Regions from separate parts of the Homo sapiens genome. Here region 2 is reported to be linked to region 1. The links are microRNA targets in miRTarBase. Many come from high-throughput screens and were not tested one by one. Region 1 holds a microRNA gene; the other region holds the end of a gene's coding sequence.

Evidence for each region. Region 1 holds the annotated microRNA hsa-miR-1284 (UCUAUACAGACCCUGGCUUUUC, at 5,287-5,308, shown strand). A microRNA usually pairs through its seed, bases 2 to 8, with sites in the 3' UTR of a target mRNA and lowers its output. Matches are read on the target gene's strand: a 7mer-m8 pairs with bases 2 to 8, a 7mer-A1 pairs with bases 2 to 7 and ends in A, and an 8mer does both.
Region 2: the mRNA of SCN4A is a reported target of hsa-miR-1284. Seed matches in the 3' UTR shown: 7mer-m8 at 2,245-2,251.

The regions. Positions count from the first base shown.
Region 1 is chr3:71,534,322-71,547,346 of GRCh38, reverse strand. It overlaps MIR1284 (microRNA 1284), which reads left to right and starts at 5,258; the gene lies at 5,258-5,377. The region is part of intron 2 of FOXP1 (forkhead box P1); the gene reads left to right.
Region 2 is chr17:63,933,258-63,941,729 of GRCh38, reverse strand. It overlaps SCN4A (sodium voltage-gated channel alpha subunit 4), which reads left to right. Exons shown (of 24, transcript NM_000334.4): 24 at 1-3,176. The coding sequence ends at 959. Among named protein-coding and RNA genes, the nearest start is that of CD79B, 5.2 kb to the right of the region's middle. RefSeq lists enhancers at 7,744-8,148, 7,890-8,149, 6,545-8,149.

The sequences.
Region 1 (13,025 bases):
TGGGTTTCCACAAACCTGCTGTCTAGTCCTGCACTGTTTGTTCCTTGATCTGGTGGTTGGGGCTGCACTGGTTGCATTTTGGTAGGCAGGCAGACCCCTCACAGTGTTAAAATGAAGGGGAGGAAAGGGTAACCTTTCCTAAACTACCTAAGAAGAATGCTAATCCCAACTGTTTCAGAAACCTGTAATTTTTAGTTTATGTAAAACTCAGATAGATTGAATTCCCCCTTGAACCTTTTTGTATTTCATAAGAGTTTTATTTCCTAAAACTGACAGCAGTGACAGTTGTGTTAGAATTCAGCCCTGAGTATTTATTTCTAGATTTCACAATTTGTTTTGTCTTCGTAGCAAGCAATTGCCTTCCTTCCTTTCTCTCTTCCTCTCTGTGTCTCTGTCTCTCTCCCCTTCCTTTCTTTGCAATTTCCTTCTTTTCTCAAGCTCATGATGAAAATTGACCCTTCAGTTTTATTTTCAGATGAAAGCTCAAGCAACAAGCCAGCGCTTGCCTCCATTAGTGGCTCTGGGTAGTCCTTGCAGGAGAAATCACCATCAGCAAATCATCGTCCGTTTAGAGTGGGCTGCAGAGGCTAGGCAGCTCCCTGACTTCACTGTCCAGGAGCCTCTTAGAAATGAGCAAGGAGTGGCACTGGTGCTAGTGCCATTCAGCAAGGCTTTGGAGGTGTGCTTCGCTGCATTGGGGTACCTGATGAACAGCATCTCGGTGGTTGGGTATCTTGCACCCAGGCTAGAAGGTTAACTTCCATTAAGCTTTATTCAACCCTGCATCATAGAAGTGGTGGGTAGGTGTTTGTGCATCTCTGTGTGTATATGAATGACATGGCCAGAGGCTCCACTGTTCCATCATCGAAAAGTTTCTTAAAGGGACCTTATGAAGAACCACATGGAATTTGTAACTTGATCACGAAATTTGGACCATTAAGGACCTGAAAATAGCTCTTCGGTTTTGTGGGTCACACCTTTCTCTAAGCTCAGTTAATGAGCAAATCTTTATTCTTTACAAGATTAGCCAGGTGTATTTCGTGAATGTTAACTTTAGCCTTGGCTGCTTGGCCCTGCTGCTAATGAGGCCAAAGTGGGAATTCCTGCCTCTTGTGGACCAGTTACCTTCACTCTCTTACCTGGCCACCGACCACTAACCCTCGCCAGCTGGCTTGTGAATGTCTGCAGTTGGATGTTGGAGTGTGGGGAGGTGGGTGGGGGAAGGTGTTGTATGGATTAATGCAAATCCATGACCCCTCCTGGGGAAAAGCCACACACACATACTCCATGGAACAAGGGTCAAGTGCATTGTCTCCACTTTTGAAAGGCAATAGAGTTGATTAAGGTTAACTCGAAAATACTGATGTTGGCTAGAATTTTGGACTTTTGCCAGGATATATGCAACATTTAAAGTGATTTCTGGAAACCTGTGCCCATGGTTCACTGGTAGAGGAGCTTAAGATGAATAAAACAGTGAAAACCAGGGAGAGTGTGATTACTTTTAAATATGCAGCAACAAAAGGGACATGGCAATAGCTTAAAAATCTGTTTTCTAGGAATGTAATATTTTCCAAAATCTTAAGCTGGCTTACATCATATTTGGGTTGTAGGTTCTTCAGACTTTTACTTTTGGTTCCTACCTATTGCGAAAACGATATATATAGGTTAAATTTATATTATAGCTATTTATTATGGAATTGCATATTAAATAGAAATCTTGCAGTTACTGAAAACTTTTAGGATTTTAAACAAACATTAAGGAGCATATAATGTTCTAGAAGATAAATATTTGCATAAGGCAGTTCAGTCCTTCAGCATGTGTATTTTTAAAAACAAACAAAACCCCATCAATATTTACCCTAAGTGTAATTTGCAAAGTAAAATGAGAGTAATTTTGAAATCTTGTGTAACTCTGATTCATTTATTTTCATAGGATGGATTTACATTTTGGAATGATAAATGTGCAATAAAGAGCTATTAGGAAAACCATTATTTCTCTCAGATTTGGGAAATTCTAACACTGCTTTGTTACATATCACTATTTCCCAAAGAAAAGAAAATTAGGCCCAGACAAACTGTGACTTACCCAAGGTCACTTACTCAACTAGAAAGTGGCTGAGCTTTGGTGAAAACCAGTCCTTCTCTCCCTCAGACCAGTGGTATTTCCATGACAGCATGCTGATTTTTTTCAGGGAGCATATGCGCGCATGTACATGTGTAAATAAAATGGTTATTTTTAATAAAAAAAAAATTGTTTTACCACCCATGGTCCTGGTTAAAATCGCTATTTTGCTTCCTTTTAACAGACTGCAAGCGTGGTGACTTGGAAATATCATTTTCTTTCTCATCCTTTCAAGAAGCAAATTCAGCGTATTGCTTTACAGTCTTAACATTTTTTTATGTCTCTAGATACAGAATTGACTTTGTCTTTTCTTTGCCTTCTAAGCTGTTTAGAGCAAGGTGAGATTACAATCATAAGCTGAATCTGGAAAAAAAAAGCCCTATTATCTTTCTTGACTACCCTCATTGCCTGGAAAAGAACTATTATCCAAGTTTCACTTAATCATATGGTAACTTACAACAGTTGTGATTTGTAAAATACATGACGATTTGGTCTTGTCTCCTTTGTCTCTCTTACCTCTTTGTGATCATATTCTGCTTATTTTAATGCATGACCAGCCAACTGTGTTATTTTTCAGAAAGACCACCCCACATATAAAATGGAGTGGTCTTTAAATGTCTTGGGCTTTGAAAGATTGTTTAGCCATTCCTTCCCAAGTGCTTCAGGTTTGGATTTTGGAAACGTATGTTTTTGCCATTGGTGTCACTGCAAATGTTCTCATCTTCCTTTTTTCTTTGAATTTGATCAAACTTTGTTCACTTGTAGTACTTCCACGATCAGCAGAGTCTGTCTAGTCTTTCCTGCTTTTTCCTTTTTTTTGTTCCAAATTTTCCTTTTTTTTTTTTTCCATTTCTTTACTTTCCTTTGATACATCTTTTTAAAAAGTCAAAGTGGAAATATATGTAATTGACCAATGCTATAGCAGTTTATAGATGATATAAATTATTAAAAGAAATAAATACATATTTTATAACTGGATTTATATCATAAAATATTTCTAACCTTTATAGAAGGATTTATATATTTTTATTTATATCTTTTAAGTACTTATATCTTTTTAATACTGCTACGGCATTGGTCACTTGTATGTATTCGGCTCTGATTTTCCTAAAAGACATAGTAAAGGAAAGTAATAGAAATACACACATATATGTGTGTATATGTATGTGTATACACACATATATGTGTGTATATGTGTGTATATGTGTGTATACACACATACATGTGTGTATATGTGTATATATAGTGTGTAAACACACACAGGCACAGCATATAGTAAATAAGAGAATTTCATATCTTTACAAATATATTCAAAAGAGAACCACTTCAAACACATGGGTTTTACTGAATGAAGATCACTTCTACCTTTATGTGGTGGTCTAAGGTTTCTGTCACTTTCTTTGTTAGTTGTATTTGAAAGCAGGTGAGTAAACCAGAAAGAAATGATTCAGTCTGCCTGCTCCAGGCACAGAAGTAGAGGGATATAGGCCTGCAGCTCTCAGGCTTTCTGTGGACCTGCTTCCCCACTCTGTTTTGAGGCAGAAACTGGGGGATGTCAGCTCAAGCTTTGCTTGGCCACATGTGCCTCCACGGCTAGCTGAGAGTCACGTAGATGCCACTTGTCACATACACCCTTGGATCTGAGCTGCTTGAGGGTGTTACCACACATCACAGCTTGGTGCTGGGGCTCAGCATGGCCAGGTGGCTAACCAGGGCTTGGTGTCAACTACATTTGGGATGATGACACTTGGAGGACACAGAGCCACTGTGCAGCAGGAGTCGCCACTGCTAACAGCCAGAGGTTGGTGCCCATTTTGCCCCAATCCTCCTCAGTCCCTTCTCAAGTGGAAATTTTGCAAGTCGACTTCTGCAGCGTGCGTAGTACAATTTGGCTGACAGCAGTTTCTGGCAAAAGAAATAACCAAATTATTATTCAGTCATGGTTTTTTAACAGCCGCAAAGCAAGTGGATGTTAACTAAATGATGCAATTTATTCCCTTCCCTCTTATTGCCAGCTTGCCTATTACAGAGCGACTGCCAGTTTTCAATAAGTGGTACCCAGATGGTATTCGCATGCCGCCCACTTGGTTACAGAGCCGAAGCGGGGAATAACTCGGCAGACACTACAAGCTGTGGGTCAATTGAGGGGGAATGCCTGTTGCTTCACAGTTTTGCATATGTAAATCTGTTAATGTTATGTCAGTATTGTGCGGGCTAAACACAAGCATTGCCTTTCTCTGGGGGCCCAGCTGAACTTGGACCACAGCCCAGTTATACCGAGGCTCGGAGAGCGAAGCTGCAGTTTGAGGATGCTACACCGCCTGCTCCCCTCCACTCTTGCCTCCATGCTTTTGTGTTATCTGCAGCCCAAGCTGGATGCAGGAAGTGTCTGCCATAGGCTGACTCCATAATAGGACAGGCAGGCCGGGTTTTATGAGCTGGCTGCGGAGGGAGGAGTGTGAGTATGTGTCTATTTTTAGGCCAGCCTTCAAGACAGTTCCTTTGGCCCAGCCTGCGCCTGCCTGCCTCGCTCACACTCTCCTCTGTGTGTCTGCCACACTTCTGCTCTCCATTTCATCAACTGCAGATGTGGCACACAGCCGTCTTAGAAAAGTCATGAACTGTGTCGTCTGTGCGGCTTAACAGCCAACATCTGCTGCAGCAGGCTGAAGGAAGAGGCAGGGAAATCATTTTCGGGAATGCACTCAAGTGCCTCAACTTAGCCTCTACTTTGGCCTGTGCAGACAATTATTTTACACTAATTGCATCAAGATAGCAGCTATAAAAACGAGATTTCGATCGCTCTGCTCCCCCACCCCTCTTGTGAAAGTTGCAGTTACAAAGGGGTAGTTCTTTTTTCTTTTTATTGTGGTTTGTTTCTTGTTCTCAAAAGCTTATTACATTGGGTGCAAACAACAACAAAAATGCCATAAAAAGGCAAGAATCGTAATATGCTTAAGAGCTAAAAAGACCTATGGTGTTGGTTTAACCAATGAAAATATTCCTGCAGGTATTGTAAAATTTATGTGCCATATGAAAAACATTAAGGGTGTTGTTTTTTTCACAGAGGAAAATGTTCATTGTTGAGCCATTTTGTAAATTATTTTAATGCTGCATTTCTGCTTAAACCTCATGATTTTGATATATAAGCCAGTTTAATGTTTTCTATACAGACCCTGGCTTTTCTTAAATTTTATATATTGGAAAGCCCATGTTTGTATTGGAAACTGCTGGTTTCTTTCATACTGAAAATCTGTCTCGCGCGGCGTGATGCCATGTGGCAAAGGAGTAGTTTGACCAGAGTCAAACCTCGAGTGTTGACTTTTGAGTCCTAAAAACTAGGCAAGACCGTCTGAATAAATAATCTAGAAGGTGTTTTTTTGTTTGTTTTAAAACCAGGAGTCTTTTGACAGCAATAAGAATAGCATCTCTGCAGTACAGTATGGACTTTCTAATGCATTGGTCTGTTTCAACTTTTCATCTTCTTGTAACAGAGGCAACATTGTGTTCAGTATCTGAGCCTTAACTTTTTTTTTTTAATGCTCTCGGAGTAAATTCTGGTGAAATACGCATTCCAGCATCTCGGATTCTCTTGAAAGATTTGTTTCTGTGACATTTTGCTGTATCTGTTGTGCAGCTAGAGTAGCATGCTTCTCTCCTCACATTTCAAGTCTCTAGACTTTGTTCTGAAGAGCCAGATGGAAGTATGCAGATTGTTTTTATCTTTTGTCCTTCACACTGTAACCTGATCTCCAGCATATCTAGACATCTAGCAGAAAATTTACTATGTGAAAGCAAGGAAATGATTTAGAAATATGGACCAGCCAGGAAAGAAAGGGCTCAAGATGTACTTTATCAGAGTAAATCTCTCCACCCAACTCCCATACCCTTCTTTTTTTATTTTCATTAAAAAATGCTTTTCTCTTCTAGGGTATGTCTACATATGCCCAAATATTATTCTTCTCTTTTAACAGGGACTGAGAATTATAATTGACCAGTGAGTTTGGTAAAGGTGTAAATAGGTGTGCGATGAAAGTTGATTACCTAATAATTGAAAGCTTGGAAAAAGCATGAATTGGTAGAATCCTAGACTTGGCAATGGCCTTATAAATTAGGGCAGTGCAGTTTGCTAAAAGAAGGGACTTGTCCAAAGTTACATACCACGGTTGAGACAGATTCAGGACTCAAAGCCAGCATTGCCTCAGTGGCTGCAGGAAACAATGGAATCTCAGGCTTCATGGTTTGTGGGGTTTTAATGGCAAGATATTTGTAACCTTTTTGTTAATGTTCTCCTACCTCTTTAACTTGTGGTCCTAAAAACCTTGTTTCCTTCTAATCTTTCATTGGTGTTTGGATTCACATTAGTAACTAAACATATTCACCACCATATTAGGGCACTGGATATTTGCTACACTTGTAAGTGTACACAATATGCGTGTATGTCTGTATTCATACATATTCAGCATAGTGCACACATTTGGAGTCAGGAGACCTGGGTTTAAATGCCAACGGTGGCAGTTTGGAGAAGCGAGGCCTTAGGTGAATTACCCTGACATCTCCAGGTCTCTGTTGTCCCTGCTCTAGAATCGTGATGATAATAATACTTGCCTTAAGGTTGTCCCAAGAAGTTAATGAGATTATGTACATGAGACACTTAGCATGGTGCCCCTGCAGCACATACAGTATTCTTGTCCTTAACGAAAGTTTATTATTTTAATTGATTATCTGTTACCCTTGACAACAAAGGAAAGTAGTGATAAATGCCATATTTAGCCTTGAGTTTCAACATTTTTCTCCTGTAGATTGGTTTGTGTTTCTCACCCTTCTTGTCCCCCCTTCACTCTTTCTTTTCTAGCACCTTCTGCAGCATTTCTTGTTTTACCTTTGGGTGTCATTAGACGTTGTTTACATCATTGTCTGGCGGACCAGTGCTGTTTGCAAAAAGCTCAGGTGCTTCCTCTCCTGCTTACTCTTATTCTCTTCCTTGTCTAGTGACATTGTCTTGAACTTTCTAGCTGGGAAAGACTAAAGGGGATTTGTCACCTGGCAGGGGCCCTCACCAAACTTGTGTCATGCTTGAGAATATTTTGCCTCATTATCGTCAGTAATATCTTCAATGCACACCATTAAGACCAACCTAGGGCTTGAAGAAATGAATATTTAAGGGCATATTTATTGCCTAGATTAGAAAATACAGATTTTAAGTGTTTTCTGCTACTGATAAACTTTGTTCATTCAACAGGTGTTTATTTAGATGTCTACTATGTGCTAGGTGTGCAGGATAAGCAAGACAGACACTATTTGTGCTCTCATGAAGCTTAAAAAGCCTGACATGAATCTTGACATATAGTATCTCCCTGAAATCCAGCTTTAGTTTTACCTTCGATTTCTGTTAGGCTTTGGTCCTTGTTTCTTGTACATCTACTGATTGACTTTCTACAATTCCAACTTAAAATTTATGCTAATAAAAAAGATTTCAAGCTATTGTATTTACAATAGCATCAAAAATACTTAGGAATAGATATAATAAAAGAAGTATAAAACTCATACACTGAAAACTACAAAATATTCTTGAAAGAAGTTAAAGACCTAAGTAAATGGAAAGATATCATATGTTCATAGACTGGAAGACTTATTGTTATCAAGGTGGCACTCTCCATGTTGATCTACAGATTTAATTGCAGTCCCTACCAAAATCCCAGGTATTTTTTTTTTTTTGGCAGAAATCGATAGATTGATGCTAAAAGTCATATGGAAATGCCAGGAAGCCAGAATAGCCAAAACACTTGAAAAAGAACAGAGATGACCGAGCGCGGCGGCTCACGCCTGTAATCCCAGCACTTTGGAAGGCTGAGGCAGGTGGATCACGAGGTCAGGAGATCGAGACCATCCTGGCTAACACGGTGAAACCCCATCTCTACTAACATACAAAAAAAAAAAAAAAAATTAGCTGGGCATGGTGGCAGGTGCCTGTAGTCCCAGCTACTAGGGAGGCTGAGGCAGGAGAATGGCGTGAACCCGGGAGGCGGAGCTTGCAGTGAGCCAAGATTGCGCCACTGCACCCCAGCCTGGGCGACAGAGCGAGACCCCATCTCAAACAAAAAAAAAATAAAAACAAAAAAATAAAAAATAAAAAAACCTAAAACAAAGCTACAATAATCAAGAAAGTATGGTACGAGAATAAGTATGGAGATACAGATCAATGGAATAGAATTGAGAGTCAAGAAATAAACCCTTACATTTATGGTCAGCTGATTGTCAACAAGGGTGCCAAGCCAATTCAGTGGAGAAAGAATAGTCTTCTTAACAGATGATGCTGAGAAAAACAGTATATTCACGTGCAAAAGAATGTAGTTGGACCTCTACTTTACAACATACACATCGAAGACCCGAAAGTATTAAGACCTAAATATAGAAAACTCTTAGAAGAAATTATAGGAATAAATCTTCTTCATGACCATGGATAAGGCAGTGGTTTCTTAGATGTGAAACCAAACCACACGCAACAAAGAACAAATAGATAAACTGGGACCTAGCATTTCTACTCCTGCATATGAACCCAAGAGGAATGAAATTGTCTATCTACAGAAAAGCTTGTACATAAATGTTCATAGGAGAATGATTTATAATAGCCAAAGAGTGGAGACAACTCAGATGTCTATCAACTGGTGGATCAACAAAATGTGATGAATGTTTGCAATGCAGTGTTTTTCAGCCACAAAAAGGAATGAAGTACTCCTGCTGCACCATTGATGAACTTTGCAAACATTGTGCTAACTAAAAGAAGCCAGACACCAAGGGACCGCATATTCAATTCCATTTATAAGAAAGATCCAGAACTGGCAAATCCATTAAGACACAAAGTAGATTTGTAGTTGCAGGGAGCTGGAGAGAGAGGAATGGGGAGAGACTGCTAATGGGTATAGGATCTCTTTTGGGGGTGGTGATCTTCTAACTTATATTGTGGTGATGGTTTCACAACCGTTGAATATACTAAAATCCATTCAGTTCTATTGTTTAAAAGGGTGAATTTTATGGCATGTGAATTGTATCTTAATAAAAAGATTTCACGATCTGTCTGCATTTCTTTACTTGTAGAATGAGGCACTGCTGATTGTGCTCTCTTTTGGCTAATGCAGGGGTCAGCAAATTTCTGTAAAGGGCCAGATAGTAAATCCATTAGGCTTTGCAGGCCATACAGTCTCTCAGCTCTCTTAGTTTTGCCATTGTAGTGCAAAAGCAGCCATAGACAATCTGTAAGTGACTGGGTGTGGTTGTGTTCCAATAAAACTTTATTTATGAATACCGAAATTTCAATTTCACATCGTGTTCATGTGTCACCAAATAGTATTTTCATTGTCTTCTTCAACCATATAAAAATGTAAAAATCACTCTCAGCTCATGGCCTGTAAAAAGCAGGTGGTCAGAAAGATTTGGCCTACAGGCTAGTAGTTTGCCAACCTCTGTGCTGTTGCTACAAAAAGCTTTAAATACATGTTAGCAGCTTCATTAGAGGAGGTATTATTCTTGTCCCTATTTCAAAGATGAAGCAGTTGAGAATTCCAGAGGCTGAGGCAAGTCACCCAGATATTGGCTGCCAGGGCTGGTCCTTGACTCTGTTGAGTTCCAGAACCTGTGCCAAAAAAACACCGTCTTTCTGTCTGACCCATCTGGGTCAGTCAAGGCAGCCCAGCCCCTTCTAGCTGTGCAGGTCACTGCATGCTTCTCCGACTTGGCCTCTGCGCCTGCCTGGTGCCATTCATTATCCTGCATCTTCCATTCATTCTGGAATGCACACTTCCTTCACTCCCTTCTAGTACACTTTTCCATACTGCTGAGCCAATACCCACACTGAGCTGGGGGAAAAACAAATCCACCACCTTGCCTCGCTTTCAGTCTTTCCTCGTGACTCACTCCTTCTGGGAAGGCAATGCCTCGGCCACCTTTTGACCCTAAATCCAGCTGGAACTGAGTTCGCCTTGCTGGCTGCTGGGCTCTGCCTTGATCATCTGTCTTTCGGGAGGCAGATTGGCTGTGCATCATTTCAACCGTCTGCAGTGACAAGTTTTTTAGAGCCTCTTTGTTTCATTTAGTACCCAGGCCTTGGTTAGGACCTTAAAGGAAGTTAAAACCCCAGTGGCACCTTTTATTTAGGGATCGCTGGCTCGCTTGGCCTCAGTCTTCTACTCGCCTTTCCCACGTCCACCTGACATCCTGGGACAGTTGGCAGACCTTCCCTCCATGGCTCAGGTGGGCAGGAGGCAGAGTCAGCAGGGGTGTTAAGTCACTTCTACATCTCTGCGTGGCCGTCATCGCTGCTATTCTGCACATGTGTTGCCACTGGGGAAAATGGGACACTATATAGAGGGTGTCTTCTCCCACCACACTCTGTGGGGGTGGGAGAACCCACACCAAACGATCATCATGTTGGATTTGCATCATGGCACATTGAGAATGTGTTCAGTGGGACTGTGGATACTATGGAACCTTTCCCACAGAGTCCTTTGTAATGCCTCTGCTAGGATCCAGTTCATTGCTCAAACACCCATACATTTTTGCCCTTTATATGCGAGGATTTTATTCTGAAAGCTGTGTTATCTGTGCTGCTTTTCCAAGACAGAGCAACAACTACCAAAAAAAAAAAAAAAAAAGAGACATGGTTTAGAAGTGTTTAAGTGATAAATGCAAGCTCTTTATTTATGACTCATAATGTGGTTAAGAGTCCTTCGACTTTAGTACAGTCTCCATTCCTAGTAGTTTGGACTGTGTGAAGTGCTAAAATTCCGATTCTGTGCAAAAATGATCCTGCCAGTTGCTGACTAGGGTGACTGGGGTGTGGAGGTGAAGACATAGACCCTCTGAGCATTTGGGTAGGGGATGCGTAGGGTAAGCGAATTGCATTGTTCTGCAATTCGTGGGTCACAAGTAAATTATTGAGAGTTCAGAAACTTCTTCTTTGGCCTAAAATATTTAAAAAGTACTCCTTGTAGGGTGTCTTTGGTTATAAGTAACAGAGGGAATTTTTAGGGATGATTTAGAGTGGGATCATGGAACCCATGGTGAAATTGAAAACTGGAATCCTTCAGGACATGAGGCACCTTCTCTCTGTGTCACTCTTCTTGTGTCTCGTTGTGTTTTGACTGTGCTTTATTTTGCTCTCCCTCCCTGCAGACTACCTCAAGGCAACTGTTAGTCTGCAAATGGCCTCTCAGGACTGCCCCCAAGGGTCACCCTTGATCTCTAAGGCTTTCAGAATTCTGTCATATTATTCTGTCTGAATACTTAGTGTTCTTGTTAGGAGCCTTGGTGTTGTAGGTAGCTAACAGGCAAGCCAGGGTGGAGGGCACGGGGAGGCGTTGTGTGTATTAGAAGGATCTTGGGATATCTTTAGGACTCTGGGATGCCGCCATATCTCAGAGTGGGGCAGAACCAGGAATGGGAATCACCAGGAGCCTGAACAGAGTTCTCTAATTTCTCATCCCTGTTTCTTTCTCTTCTTTTGAGACAGAGTCTCCCTCTGTCACCCAGTCTGGAGTGTAGTGGTGCGACTGCAGCTTACTGCAGCCTTCACCTCCCAGGCTCAAAGATCCTACCTCAGCCTCCCAAGTAGCTGGGACCACAGGTGCACGCCACCACGTCCAAGCTAACATTTTGTGTTTTTGTTGTTGTTGTTGTTGTTGTTGTTAGAGATGGGTTTTTGTCATATTGCTCAGGCTGGTCTCGAACTCCTGGCCTCAAGTGATCCACCTGCCTTGGCCTCCCAAAGTGCTAGGATTCCAGGCATGAGCCACTGTGCCTGGCCTCATCCCTGTTTCTCGCTGCATATCTCTGCTTTGCCACTGGCTCTCAGCAGACTCGCCCCTCTGCTTCTCAGGCCATGACCTGCTTGCCATGAATTCTGAGTGGACCTATTAAGTTCTCCTCCAGTGAAATAACATCTTACCTGAAGGTCAGGTTCTGAAGTTAGCATATGAGATGAAAATTGCTTATGGTTAAAATATCCTTTCAGAGCCTTGGAAGTCACCAGTAAGCAGGGCCAGATGCACCTGGTTTGTGGGGCATGTGGGATCAAAGACCCACTAAAGGAACACAGGATTTTCAGCTCCTTTTGCTCCCGGGCATTTGCTCATCATTTGCACTATTACTAAATGCTCTTCCCTTCCCTGCTCCTTCTCCAAGCATTGGTACATGTCTTTGTGCTAGTTAAGCTTGAGTACATTGTGATTTCACTAGATCACACTCCCAATTTCAAGTTCAGTGTGAAGAATATAGAGGTTCTGGTTGGTCTAGCCTTGGCCACGTATGTGTCCCTCATAGGTCAGCTCTGGCTTAGAGTGGCTGGTTACATTCAGGAAATGCTCATACTTTTAAATTAAATTTGCAAAAATAAGAGAGAGTCTTGGAACAAATAATGAGAATGAGACCTAGAAAAGTGACAGTTGGAATATGGTCCCTGGCTGTGGTGAGCCCTTAAATAGAGTGTTTTCCAGGGTCTGCATAGAGTCACCTGTGGACTACTGTTGAAATGCAGATTTCTCAACCCCATCCAACCCCACTCTGGCTCTGTCCCATCTTCTAGAGGTTGAGCCAAAGATCTGCATTTTCAAGTAAGCAAACCAGATGAATCTTATCCACACTAAAGTTTAATTACTGCTTATAAGAGGAAGATATTGGGCTGTTTTAACTACATTTGGAGTAAAGCTTTTTAATTCTAGTGAGAAGTGGAGTTGACCTTTGAACTGGGGGTGTCTACTCATACGTGGATTTTTTTTCGACCACATGCAGAGTGAAAACTCAGTGTTGGTGAATGGGAAACCAGTGTATAGGGAGAGCCTTAGGGTTTTTTGTTGTTGTTGTTGTTGTTGTTTTTGACAGAGTTTTTGCCTAGGCTGGAGTGCAATGG
Region 2 (8,472 bases), not on the chromosome of region 1:
ACTTCGAGACCTTCGGCAACAGCATCATCTGCCTGTTCGAGATCACCACGTCGGCCGGCTGGGACGGGCTCCTCAACCCCATCCTCAACAGCGGGCCCCCAGACTGTGACCCCAACCTGGAGAACCCGGGCACCAGTGTCAAGGGTGACTGCGGCAACCCCTCCATCGGCATCTGCTTCTTCTGCAGCTATATCATCATCTCCTTCCTCATCGTGGTCAACATGTACATCGCCATCATCCTGGAGAACTTCAATGTGGCCACAGAGGAGAGCAGCGAGCCCCTTGGTGAAGATGACTTTGAGATGTTCTACGAGACATGGGAGAAGTTCGACCCCGACGCCACCCAGTTCATCGCCTACAGCCGCCTCTCAGACTTCGTGGACACCCTGCAGGAACCGCTGAGGATTGCCAAGCCCAACAAGATCAAGCTCATCACACTGGACTTGCCCATGGTGCCAGGGGACAAGATCCACTGCCTGGACATCCTCTTTGCCCTGACCAAAGAGGTCCTGGGTGACTCTGGGGAAATGGACGCCCTCAAGCAGACCATGGAGGAGAAGTTCATGGCAGCCAACCCCTCCAAGGTGTCCTACGAGCCCATCACCACCACCCTCAAGAGGAAGCACGAGGAGGTGTGCGCCATCAAGATCCAGAGGGCCTACCGCCGGCACCTGCTACAGCGCTCCATGAAGCAGGCATCCTACATGTACCGCCACAGCCACGACGGCAGCGGGGATGACGCCCCTGAGAAGGAGGGGCTGCTTGCCAACACCATGAGCAAGATGTATGGCCACGAGAATGGGAACAGCAGCTCGCCAAGCCCGGAGGAGAAGGGCGAGGCAGGGGACGCCGGACCCACTATGGGGCTGATGCCCATCAGCCCCTCAGACACTGCCTGGCCTCCCGCCCCTCCCCCAGGGCAGACTGTGCGCCCAGGTGTCAAGGAGTCTCTTGTCTAGCAGGCAGCATCGGGGTGGCCCACTGAGTCTCGGCATAGTCCCCAGAGCTCCCCCGTGGTGCCTGCACACAGAGTGAGGGAGGAGGGCTTTGAATCTGGGACTGTGCCTGGCTCCCTGATGGGGGACAGGATTTGGCCACACTGGGGCTGACACCCAGGCCCGAGCGCCTGCGTTCCCAGACCATGGGAAATGGGAATTGCGCTCAGGGGCTCCATGCTGGGTCTGAGGCCCCTGCCTCCAAGATTTAACCTGCAAGTTGCTCTGACCTCCTCTGGGCCCTGTCGCCCCTCCTTTTGGCCTGGGGGAGGTCAGAACATTCGAATCTCTGCCCCTCACTTGAGGAGGAGCTGGCCTGCGGTGGAGGGATCAGTTGCCCCCCATCACCAGAGTCTTAAGGGTCACTGGCCTCTCCCCAGGAAGTGGCTCAGACCCCTCAGCCCCAGCCCAGACAAAGATGTCTTAACCTCAGGGAGTGCAGACACCTAACCCCAGGGCACTGCCAGCCCACCCCCTTTGACTCTGGGGTGCAGCTTCACCCACCAGGCCAGCTCAGGAATTCCCTGGAAAAGGGAAATGTGACTGGTTCAGAAATAGCTCCTCAAAGCCTCAAAACCTGATTGGCCACTGGATCCTGCTGCTTTGGGCTGGGATGGTGACTCCTGAAACCTCTTCCTAGGCCACGTCCAGGTCCGTAGCTCCCCTGGCTGGCTCCTAGGGGAAGAGCAGAAGGAAGGATGCCACTTGGGAATGAATTGTCCTTTTCTAGGAAGCACGGGGGAGTGAGACAGGCTGGGTCCTGCCAGCTGGATCGCTGCACATGGCCTGAGCATCCAGACCTGAGCGGGAGTCAGGGACCTGCTGCTCAGTAAGAAGATTCTCGCCCCTTCCCTCTCTCCCTGCCTCACTCCTCCGTGAGCACCACCAGGGCTCCAGGAGCCTCATCCAGCCTCAGAGATCTCCCTTCTCATCTCCCCACGCCCGTCTCTTTCTCACCTTTCCCACCTCTCTCCCCAAAGTGATCCTAAGAATGTACAGTTGAGCTCAGGTTAGATATTTCGACCCTGGGGCGTGCAGCAGGGAAGGCCCAACTGGTTCAGGCTCAACCTTCCAACTTCCTGTGGCCTGAAGAAGCACTTCTGCTGCATCGCTGTTCTGGGCATGGCAGGGCCAGGCCTCTGCTGGCTCAGGAGGAGGGGTGAGAGACCTGCTCAGGCGTCGCTGGATTTATTCACTTGTGTGTGTACCTGTGGCTGTGTGTCTGCTTGTATGCTTTTATAGGCCTGTGTGTATAGCTGTGTGTGTGTTCAAGTGCGTGACTGTATGTGTGTGTGTGAACCACTGTGTACTGGAGCCTGCATTATGCACGTGTCTGGGTATCTTTGTATATATGTGTATATATGTGTGCCCTGGACTGTTTCAAGGTCCATGGAGTACGGCTGGTGTGTCATACTGTGCAGGCCTGTCCCTGGGAGTGTTCCCGTGCCTGGGAGAGTGGACCTGTGCTGTGAGTGTGTGGATGCGTGTGAACGCATGTGGTAAGGTGTGTACTCAGGGCATTCTGTTGGCCTAAGTGCCTCTTCTTTTTCTTCTTGTTTCTCATGAAAAGTTTGATTAAAATTCAGGAAGCAGCAAAACCTTCAAAACAAGACATGTATGTGTGCTTGAGTGTGTGAACACGTGTGTGTGTGTGCACATCTACATGCCATGCCTATGGGCCAGAGTTGTCTTTATTGTCCACCATGCTCTCTCACCTGCTCCCAGTCCTGCCTGAACAGCCCTCTCTCTCACTCCCCTCTCCTCCCCTTCCTGTTTCTCGTTGTCACACCCATGGCCTCAGCCCTGCTCCCTGCCTCCTGCCTATGTCTCCTCTATGGAAGGAGGCCTCCACTCCTTCCATCTCTTCCTTCAGAAGTTTCGTCTAATGGGGGCAGTCTCCCCTTCCTGGCACATTGCCCCTCTGCCTTGCCCTCCTGGGCCCTGGGCTGGCACAGCCCCTGGAGCCTCAGAAATCTGTTTGATTGGATATTCTCCTCGGACTGTGTGCAGGTTGCAGAGGAAGAGTAGATGAGCCGGGTCCGGCCTCTCCCTGCCTGTGGCCCCTCCCCTGCAGACGGATGCCCATTCCTGCCTGGTCCAGTGGGGAACAGGTCCCACGCCAGGCCAGCAGGCGGGCTCCTTTGTACAGTTCTTACAATAAACCCTCCTTGGTGCCTCTGGTATGTGGCTTCTCCCTTCTGCATGTCAGCATGTGGATGCGGATGGGGGCTGAGGGCAGTGAGAAGCAGAAAGGGTCGGTGGGGATTGGAGCCAAACGTGGAAGACACGGGAGCCTCTCAGGGGGCCAGGCAGGATAAGGAGGCCCCAGCTCCCCGCTCTGGCCCAGTCCAGCTCTCTCCAGCCTCCTTACAAAAGCCCCTTAGCTGGAATCCAAGAGACCAGATAGGATCAGGGGTCAAGACCTGGCTCCCACAACAGGCAGCACCACACTCCCTCTCTTCCAGGTGATCCCTGTTGGGACTCTGTGTCCCCAGCTCCTCCTCCCCAGAGGCCCCTTCACTTCTCTGCCCATCTCAGAGGCCTCAAGGTGCCTGTGGGGTACACAGCACAGCCTCTCCCTCTCCTCAGAGGCGCTGACCCCAGGACTGACTTCTGACCCCAGATAGCCCAGGGTCACGTGGACCCGTGACTAAGAATATTCTTATGCGGCAAGTTTAGCCCACAGCCCCCAGAGAGTGAAATATAATCTTGTATGTAATTTTCTTTTTCTTTCTTTCTTTTTTTTTTTTTTTTTTGAGATAGGGTCTCACTCTGTCACCCAAACTGGAGTGCAATGGTGCAATCATGGCTCACTGCAGCTTCGAACTCCAGGGCTCAAACAATCCTCCCACCTGAGCCTCCCACCTGAGCCTGGGACTACAGGCACACGCCACCACACCTGGATGGTTTTTTATAGAGATGGGGTCTTGCTCTGTTGCCCAGGCTTGTCTCAACCTCCTGGCCTCAAGTGATCCTCCTGCCTCGGTCTTCCAAGTTGCTGGGATTACAGGCATGAGCCACTGCGCCCAGCCTGTAATTTTATTTTCTGTAACAACTTCTGACTCCCAGGGCTGTATTCTTCCAGACAAGTAAGCACTTAATTCTTTTCAGGATTTCTGCACCCTCTCTTCCTGGGTCCTGAGGTGATGTAGCACTGGCGTGGGGGATGGGGAGTGGCCCTCAGGCTGCCCCCCAGTGTCGTTCCATTGTCTCTGCGGCACCTTCCACCTTGCAGCTCTCTGTGCGTGAGTGCGAGGGGAGGTGTGGAGAATCTCTACAGGGTTGTCTGAGTGGTCCCAGGGTGCTGTCTTCCCTCCCTGGAGTGGGAGCTTCTTCTTACTTTTTTTTTCAAAATTTTTATGTCAATAGTTTTGGGGGTACAGGTAGTTTTTTTTTTGGTTACCTGGATAATTTCTTTAGTGGTGATTTCTGAGATTTTAGTGCACCTGACACCTGAGCAGTGTACACTATACCCAATATGTAGTCTTTTGTCCCTCACCCCTCCCTCAACGTTCCCCCACTGAGTTCCCAAAGTCCATTATATCATTCTTGTGCCTTTGCATCCTCATAGCTTAGCTCCCACTTACAAGTGAGAACATATGCTATCTGGTTTTCCATTCCTGAGTTACTTTACTTAGAATAATGGCCTACAGCTCCAACCAGGTTGCTGCAAAAAGATGCTATTTCGCTTCCTTTTTTTTTTTTTTTTTTTTGAGACGGAGTCGCACTCTGTCGCCCAGGCTGGAGTACAGTGGCGCGATCTCGGCTCACTGCAAGCTCCGTCTCTCGGGTTCACACCATTCTCCTGCCTCAGCCTCCCAAGTAGCTGGGACTACAGGCGCCTGCCACCACGCTCGGCTAATTTTTTGTATTTTTAGTAGAGACAGGGTTTCACCTGGTTAGCCAGGATGGTCTCAATCTCCTGACCTCGTGATCCGCCCACCTCAGCTTCCCAAAGTACTGGGATTACAGGTGTGAGCCACAATGCCCAGCCTATTTCACTCCTTTTTATGGCTAAGTAGTATTCCATAAAGAGGTGTATATATACCACATTTTCTTTATCCACTCATAGGTTAGTAGGCACTCAGGTTGGTTCCATATCTTTGCAATTGTGAATTGTGCTGCTATAAGCATGCGTGTGCATGTGTCTTTTAGAAAATCAAAATTATATCAAGTATCTTCTCCAACCACAGTGGAATAAAACTAGAAATCCACTCCAAAAGGAACCCTCAAAATTATACAAATATATGGAAATTAATCTGTTCTTGAGTGATTTGGGGGTTAACAATAAAATCAAGATGGAAATTTAAAAATTCTTTGAAATGAATGATAATGACACAACTTCTCAAAACCTCTGTGATACAGCAAAAGTGGTAGTAAGAGGAAAGTTCATAGCATTAAATGCCTACATCAAAAACTCTGGAAGACCACAAATGCCTCAAGGTACCAGAGAAACAAAAACAAATTAAACTCAAACCCAGCAGAAGAGAAGAAATGAGAAAAATCAGAGCAGAACCAAATGAAATTGAAACAAACAACACAAAAGATCAATTAAAACAAAAAGTTGGGCCGGGCACAGTGGCTCATGCCTGTAATCCCAGCACTTTGAGAAGCCGAGGCGGGCAGATCACGAGGACAGGAGTTTGAGACCAGCCTGGCCAAAATGGTGAAACCTCATCTCTACTAAAAATACAAAAATTAGCTGGGTGCAGTGTTGCACGCCTATAGTCCCAGCTACTTGGGAGGCTGAGGCAGGAGAATCACTTGAACCCAGGAGGCGGAGGTTGCAGTGAGCTGAGATCATGCCACTGCACTCCAGCCTGGGCAACAGAGCAAGACTCCATCTCAAAAAAAAAAAAAAGCTGGTTCTTTGAAAAGATAAAATTGATAGACCATTAGCAAGATTAACCAAGAAAAGAGAGAAGATCCAAATAAGCTCTATTAGAAATGACACTGGAGACATTCTTTTCACTTTAAGTTCCTCCAGACCTCGCCTGGAGCCCTCTCTGGCATCAGGGACAGGAAGATTTGCAGAGCGCAGGGTGCTCAAGCCCACACATCCTTTGAGCCTTGAATGGTGGAAGAAAAAAGGCCTCATATTGGGTGAGAAACAGAGACAACTTGGGACAACAGTCACAGCTACCCACCTCCCCAGGCATCCGTGCCACTCCTCGCACTCCTCGCCCTCCTCAGGGCGTGCCGTCCACCACATTCACCAAGTACCTCAGATGCAGGATGGCCTTCAATGTGCACAGCTGCCCTTCGACCAACGCACTGTTGGGGCCGGGCGCAGTGGCTCACGCCTGTAATCCCAGCACTTTGGGAGGCTGAGGCGGGTGGATCGCTTGAGCTCAGGAGTTTGAGACCAGCCTGGGCAACATAGTAAAACCTGTCTCTACAAGAAATACACAGATTAGCCAGGTGTAGTAGCATGACCTGTAGTCCCAGCTACTCGGGAGGCTGAGGTGGGTGAATCACTTGAGTCCAGGTGGCAGAGGTTGCCGTGAATGGAGATTGCACCACTGCACTCCAGCCTGGACAACAGAGCAAGATCTTGTCTCAGAAAAACCCCAGAAAACAACAACAAAAAAACGCGCTATTGGGCTTATTTCTATTTTACGAAAATGAGGAACCTTGGTCACTGAGAGGTTAAGAATGGGTGTTGCCTCATGGGTGCTGTTGGCATGTGGGGCAGGGAACTCTGCTTTGCCAGCCAATGCCCCTCCCGCCCCAGGCACCCACCGGTCATTGAGACCAGCGCGATTGCCCTGATGCATGTGCAGACGCTCCCTCCGTTGGGGCAGAGCCACCCTTAGTAGAGAACCACTGGTAACCTGGGGAGGTTTCCTGGCTGCTACACTGCTGGGTCAGGACTCAAACCCACGTCCTTCTTAGCAGGTCTTTTCCCAGTCACAGCAGCCCAGCAGATCCAGGACACCTGGGCTGGAGAAGGAGGCAGGGGTCTGAGCTCTTCTTTCCCTGAGGTTCTTCCCCCTCCCGGCATCCTAGGGTGGCTGGGGGTCGCTGCCTTCTTGCTTCCCCACCCCCTGAGCCCCTTGTCCCTTCGCCCGACCCTGGCCCCCATTCCTTATTTTGATGTTGCCTTCCTGGAAAGGGAGGTGTCGTCAGAAGTCAGAATGTGAAGCCCCGGGCAGCCGAGGGCAGAGGCAGGGGTAGGCTTGTGAGGCCTCCTGTTCTGGGAAGAAAAGGGCATCATGAGCCCAAAATGGGGCTCAGGGCTGTTGTCACCAGTGAGGGAACAGCACGGCTCAAAATGTGACAAATAACCCTGCAGGCGGTGGGGCCCCCGCTGCCTCCGCCCCTCCTGAAAACAGATCCCTGCCCGGCATGAATGGGAATGAAGCCCAAAGGCCACATCTGCATCCTTGTCCACGGGATGTGTGTGTCTTCCCTCCCTGGAGTGGGAGCTGCTTCTCACTTGTTTTTTTAAATTTTTTATTTCAATATTTTCTGGGGTACAGGTAGTTTTTTTGGTTACCTGGATAAGTTCTTTAGTGGTGATTTCTGAGATTTTAGCGCACCTGTCACCTGAGGATGGGTGCCAACTGCCCCCCACCAACCTCCGTGCCCCCTACAGTCCGCTGAGCCCTAGGACCAGCTCCAGAGTAGGCCCCACACCACAGGGTCCAGGCAACACACCTGTGTGAGCATGCACATACACACACACACACACCCCCCACAAACACGTGTGCCCCAAGCCTTTCCCAGTTATACCCCCCAACTTTGGGGAGACACTAGCCCCAAAGTTAATGAAGGACTCTGTCGTTAGGGGCTCAGGAAGAGTATTTCCTAAACCATGAGACTCCCAGATTTTGCCCCACTCCCCCCGGGTCAGTCTCTCTCCAGCCACCCTCACCAGCATGCGGGCCCATGGGCCTCAAGCTGACCTCAGGTGATGTTTATATTTCTGAGCTGTTTATTCCATGAACTGAACATCTGACAGCTTTTCAGAGAAATGTTTTTTCATTTGGAACATCTGGAAACAAGAAAGAACATCTGGGGCTGCCCGGAACGGGCTGTTCCTCGGATGAAACCTTAACCCTCCTGCCCCTGACTTCCGTGGCTCAGGTCCTGGCCTGCACCCCTTGAGAGTGGCCCCCACCTTATCAGGTCCGAGGCCTAGGCCAAGATCTAAAGAGGGACCACCCAGACCCTCTGCCTTCCAACCATGGCATGGGAGGTGGTTCTGCTTCTCCCTAAATCCAGACAGACCTGCCCCAGCACAGACTGGAAAACGGAGGGTTGTGAGGAGAGTGAGAGGTGGACAGAGGGCACCGACGATTTAGCATCTCTTCCTCTCCTGGGGGTCGAGGATGAGAGACAAAAAAGAAGCTGCCAGGAAACATAAAATTCAGAGGGCTCAGCTGCAGGGCTGAGGTCTGCAAGCATGCTGTGTACACTTGTGCATGTTGTGCCCTGCACAAGGGCATCTCTGAAGGGGCTGCATTGGACCCAG